2 separate regions of the Homo sapiens genome follow, and region 1 is linked to region 2. The links come from fine-mapping of genetic effects on gene expression. A gene starts in region 2. The other region holds a variant in brackets. All regions are shown on one strand. Distances are from middle to middle.

Region 1 (2,906 bases), 860 kb after region 2:
TCCTCCTGCCTCGACCTCCCAAAGTGCTGGGATTGCACTGTGGGTCCATCGGGGGAAACGTCGATAAAGAGAGGACGGGCCTAGACTCAGTAAGTCACCCTTGAGTCAGTGTTGATGGCCAAAGTATTCCAAAGATCTCCTTGGACCACTGTCCTTTGGGCAACTTTTCACCATTTCAAAATCTTAGAAGGAAGCTGTGCGCAGTGTTGTGCTTCTGTAGTCCCAGCTACTCGGGAGGCTGAGGCAGGAGAATCGCTTGAGCCCGGGAGGCAGAGGTTGCAGTGAACCATGATCACAATACGGCACTCCAACCTAGGTGACAGAGCCAGATCCTGTCTCAAAAAAACAAAACCAAAACCAAACATGTCTCTCTCCAATGGTACCTCACACTGGGGACAATTTAGAATTTGAGTGGCCACTGTGAGACTTTTCCACTGGAGAGGAGACTTACAACGGAAAGACAAAATTCTCATGAGGCGATCATCTGTTGTGTTATTTATTTATTTATTTATTTATTTGAGACAGGGTCTCACTCTGTTGCTCAGGCTGGAGTGCAGTAGTGCAGTCATAGCTCACTGCAGCCTCGACCTCCCAGGCTCAAACGATCCTCCTGCCTCAGCCTCCCGAGTAGCTGGGACTACAGGTGTGTACCACCATACCTGGCTACTTGAAATGTTTTTTAAAAAATTGTGATAGGGTCTCCCTCTGTTGCCCAGGCTGGTCTCGAACTGCTGGGCTCAAGAGATCCTCCCACCTTGGCCTCCCAAAGTGCTGGGACTACAGGTGTGAGCCACCATGCCTGACTAATTTTTGTATTTTTAGTAGAGACGGGTTTTTGCCATGTTGGCCAGGCTAGTCTCGAACTTCTGACCTCAGGTGCTCCGCCCGCCTTGGCCTCCCAAAGTGCTGGGATTACAGGCGTGAGCCACCGCACCTGGCCAATTAATTATCTTTTGAAGATCCAATTTTTATGTTTGTCTAGAGCCCCCTTTATCTCCGTTCTTTTTCTTTCTTTTTTCTTCCTTCCTTTCCCTTTTTCTTTTCTTTTCTTTTCTTTCTTTTCTTTCTTTCTCTTTCCTTCCTGTCTTCCATCTTTCCTTCCTTTCCCTTTCTTTTCTTTCTGATCTCTCTCTCTCTCCTTCCTTCCTTTTCTTTCTCTCTTTCTCTTTCTTTCTTTCAATAGGAACATGGCAACATATTGAGACCTATAGGAAGAACTGTTCTTCTAACTTATTTTTTTTTTTGGCCTTCTCCATCCCTTTTCTCCTCACTTGGGAAACTTGAAAGATGACAGGCCAGCCACAGTGGCTCACGCCTGTAATCCTAGCACTTTGGGAGACCAAAGTGGGAAGATCACTTGAGGCCAGGAGTTTTGAGACCTGCCTGGACAAGATAGAGAGACCCCTGTCTCTACAAAAATAAAAAAAAAATCAGCTGGCGTGGTGGCAAGCTCGTCTTCCCAGCTACTCAAGAGGATTACTTGAGCCCAGGAGTTGGAGACTGCAGTGAGCCACCATTGCACTGCCTGCATGCACTCCAGCTTGAGCAACAGAGTGAGACCCTCGCTCAAAAAAAAAAAAAAAATCCTTACTGTGACCAAAAGATGTGTCTGGTGCTGAAATGGGTTATAGAGGCCCACAGCCTGGGTGATCACAGAGGGCTTCTCAGAGGAGGTGGCATTTAAGAGCACTCTGAAAATTGAGAAGGAAAGAGCTGAGTGAAGACAGGGAGGGAAAGGCATTCTGAGCAG[C/A]AGGAACAGCATATGCAAAGGCGAGAAGGTGAATGTAAAGTAAAGAAGAAAAAATTGGCCCCAGGCTCTGGTCAACTGGGAGTTGACCTGGTAGTCACAGTGAAGCCGAGGAGTTCTTTGGTTGAACATATACGATTTCACAGAATGACCACATCAAACAGGGCCACTCTGTCCAGGATGAAACCAGACAAAAATCAAAACCCTTCCGTAATTGAGTCTTACCACAGATGAAAATAAGAGCATTGTCCAAACCACAGACATGGCCAAACCTCCCCATCCCCTGGCCAAAGGAGTGACTGCAGTGAGATACAGTCACACCACTCCAGCCTAGGTGACAAAAGTGAGACCCTGTCTCCAATTTAAAAAAAAGAGAGAGAAAGAAAAGGAAAATCACTGTTATTCTATGTGTGGAAAAATCATTGTCATTCTATGTGCAGAAAAATCATTGTCATTCTATGTCCAGAATAGGAGTGTCCACTTTATGGCTGGGCATGGTGGCCCACGCCTATAATCCTGGCACTTTGGGAGGCCGAAGCAGGTATATCACCTGAGGTCAAGAGTTCGAGACCAGCCTGACCAATATAGTGAAACTCTGTCTCTACTAAAAATACAAAACTCAGCCAGGTGTGGTGGTGCATACCTGCAGTCCCAGCTACTCGGGAGTCTGAGGCAGGAGAACTGCTTGAACCTGGGAGGTGGAAGTTGCAGTGAGCTGAGATCACACCACTGCACTCCAGCCTGGGTGACAGAGTGAGACCCCATCTCAAAAAAAAAAAAGAGAAAAGGAGTATCCACTCCAGTTAACTATTCAAAAAGGACTAAAAGACACACACGTTTATAGCAGTATTGTTCACTATCGCCAAAAGGTGGAAACAATTCAGCTGTTCCCTTAAAGGATGCATGGATCAACAGACTGTGGTCAATCCACGAAATGGAATACTATGCAGCCATAAAAAGGAATGAAGCACTGATCCATCCCACAGCACGGATGAACCCTGAAAACACGAGGCTGAGTGAAAGAAGCCAGGCACAAAAGCCCATAGAGTGTCTGATTCCATTTATAAAAATGTCCAGGGTAGGCCGGGCATGGTGGCTCACGCCTGTAATCCCAGCACTTTGGGAGGCCGAGGCGGGTGGATCACCTGAGGTCAGGGGT
Region 2 (2,857 bases):
TCTAGATTCACCCCTGCCCTCGGGCAGTGGCCTTAGGCCAGTCACTTTTTCTCTCTGGGCCTCAGTTTCTCTGTCTATAGAATAGACGCTGTGAGTACTGGAAGGTGGGAGTGGAGAGTGTTAACTGATTGCAGGAGGTTAAGGGGTTTTGTAACTCCAGAGTGTGGCTGGCCAGTTAGCGGTAACTTTTATTTTTATTACAGGCTGTTCCCACAGCAGCTGGAGCACAGTTTGGAAGGTATGGCACAGCCTGGACAAACAGAAGCCCCGGACCTCCCCTTGCTAGAGCCCTTTAACTTGCTCCCCTCCAGATGGGGGCCTCACACCCCATTGCGCAGATTGGAAAACCAAGTGGGCCTGTCCCCTTGGACAGGGGTTGGGGCAAGATCCTGAACGCTGTCCCCTCCTCCACCAGCCGAGGGACCATGGGGAGGGGAGGGAACACCAGCAATGAGTTGGGTTGGGGGGAGTCATTTGCAGCCCTCCAGCGTTGGGGCCAGAAGCGGCCTCCTTGGACAGAGGCAGGAAAATTGAGAGTCCCAGGTCTCAACTGCCCCTCCCCTATTTTCCATTCATCATCATAATCATCATTACTATTAATCATTAATTAATAATTATTAACTTATTACCTCCATTGTGCAAGGGAGGAATTACGCCTGGGTAATTTTTGTACTTTTAGTAGAGATGGGGTTTCACCATGTTAGCCAGGCTGGTCTCAAACTCCTGACCTCAGGTGATCTGCCCGCCTTGGCTTCCCAAAGTGCTGGGATTACAGGTGTGAGCCACCGCACCCAGCAACTTACCCAGTTTTGAAGCACTTCAGGAGGAGTGGAGGGCCAGTCAGTCTGATCCATAGTGGGTGGACCTATTTTTTCAGACGCTGGTGACTCTGTTTCCCGAAGTGTGAGCTGAGAGCGTGGCCATGGAGCCTGCCTTGTTTGGAACTGGAACTCAGGTTTGGCATACAGCAAGCACTCAATCAATCAATCAATCAATGAGCTGAATGCTATGGCTGGATCCTGTAATCCCAGTTATGTGGGGAGTATCGCTTGAGGCCGGGAGTTTGAGACTACTAGCCTGCAGGACATAGCCAGACCCGGTCTCTAAAAATAAAAATAAAAATAAAAATAAATTAGCTGGACTTGGTGGTGCGGGCTTGTAGTCCCAGCTACATGGGAGACTGAAGCAAGAGGATGCGATACAGCCACACCCCGTCACACACACACACACACACACACACAGACGCACACACACAGTGAATGAAAGTGGGGGCAGTACCCCCTGACTCCCTGCCCCACCAGCTCTCTCCACAGACCCCGGGACTCAGTTTCCCCACCATGTCGGATTCAGCCGCGGGCGACTTCGCGGGGCATTCCGGGCGGGGACTTGAACGCAGGGGCCAGCGCCATCTGTTTACCTTGAGGCTGGACGTTGGGCAGGGCTGTGGTGGGCCGTCCCTGGGGCCGGCCGTGCCTTGGGGATAAATAGGCCCCGCGGGCCTCGTGGGCGGTAGAAAGCGAGCAGCCACCCAGCTCCCCGCCACCGCCATGGTCCCCGACACCGCCTGCGTTCTTCTGCTCACCCTGGCTGCCCTCGGCGCGTCCGGACAGGGCCAGAGCCCGTTGGGTAAGCCGCGTTAGCACCCGCGCCGTGCCCACGGCCCCACAACGGACTGTAGGACCCGTGAGAGGCCCGGGATCCAGGCTGTTTGGGGCTCACGGACTGTTCGTAGGGGACGTGCCGGGCGCAGAAAGCAGGTGGCGGGACCGAGACTAGAGGAGCGCAGTGGGGCCTCGGAGGTCCGGGTTCGCTGCAACGGTGGGAGTTGGTGGTGGGATTCCCCGGCCCCATGACGCCTCACCAGGTCCCCTGCCGCCGCAGGCTCAGACCTGGGCCCGCAGATGCTTCGGGAACTGCAGGAAACCAACGCGGCGCTGCAGGACGTGCGGGAGCTGCTGCGGCAGCAGGTGCGGGGCCCGGGTGCGGGGCAGGGAGTGCCAGGGAACGGAAGGGGGTCTCAGTTCCCAGCGAGGAGAGAGGAAGTACCCGAGAAGGTGGAGAGGAGATGGGGAGGGAAGGGGGTCGGCGGGTAGGGAGTCCTTGGCGAAAAGAGGCTGTAGAAAGGGACCCCGGGGTAGAGAGAGGGGAGACCCGAGGGATGAGGAGAGGTTGGGACCCCGCTGATTCCATCCCACCCCTGCAGGTCAGGGAGATCACGTTCCTGAAAAACACGGTGATGGAGTGTGACGCGTGCGGTGAGCGCGGCGGGGCGGTCGGGAGAGAGAAGAGACGGGAGACAGAGACACAGAGACAGAGACAGAGAGCCAGGGAAAGCTGGGGAGGAAAAGAGACGGAAGGAGATGGAGGCTGACGGAGAGGTGGACGGACGAACGGGAATGGGATGGGGTGTGTAGAAACAGAGACAAAAAGAGACAGAAGCGGTGAGAGAGTTTTGGGGAAGTGAGAGACGCCACGGGGCAGAAAAGCGGGACAGAGACTCAGAGAAGAGACCGGGGAGACCCCGCGGTCAGAGCGCGCAGCCTCTGGGGCGGGATCGCGGACAGCGCAGGATTTCGGGCCGCCCCGGGGCGGGGGGTGGGGGGGAAGGGGAAGCCTCCAGCCCCGGGGCGTGGCCATGATAGGCTCTGCCCCCGGGCGAGCCACCGATCAGCCCCGCCGCTTCTCCCCCCTCCCCCCCGCAGGGATGCAGCAGTCAGTACGCACCGGCCTACCCAGCGTGCGGCCCCTGCTCCACTGCGCGCCCGGCTTCTGCTTCCCCGGCGTGGCCTGCATCCAGACGGAGAGCGGCGCGCGCTGCGGCCCCTGCCCCGCGGGCTTCACGGGCAACGGCTCGCAC

Evidence for each region. PIP is the estimated chance that this variant, and not a neighbour inherited with it, causes the effect.
Region 1: its variant is fine-mapped to the expression of COMP in lymphoblastoid cells (GTEx, PIP 0.95).

The regions. Positions count from the first base shown.
Region 1 is chr19:17,925,242-17,928,147 of GRCh38, reverse strand. No RefSeq gene overlaps it. Among named protein-coding and RNA genes, the nearest start is that of CCDC124, 6.3 kb to the left of the region's middle. The variant C/A (reference allele first, on the strand shown) is at 1,751.
Region 2 is chr19:18,789,960-18,792,816 of GRCh38, reverse strand. It overlaps COMP (cartilage oligomeric matrix protein), which reads left to right and starts at 1,512. Exons shown (of 19, transcript NM_000095.3): 1 at 1,512-1,626; 2 at 1,882-1,967; 3 at 2,204-2,255; 4 at 2,703-2,857. The coding sequence starts at 1,548. RefSeq lists enhancers at 1,193-1,771, 1,772-2,352, 2,353-2,857.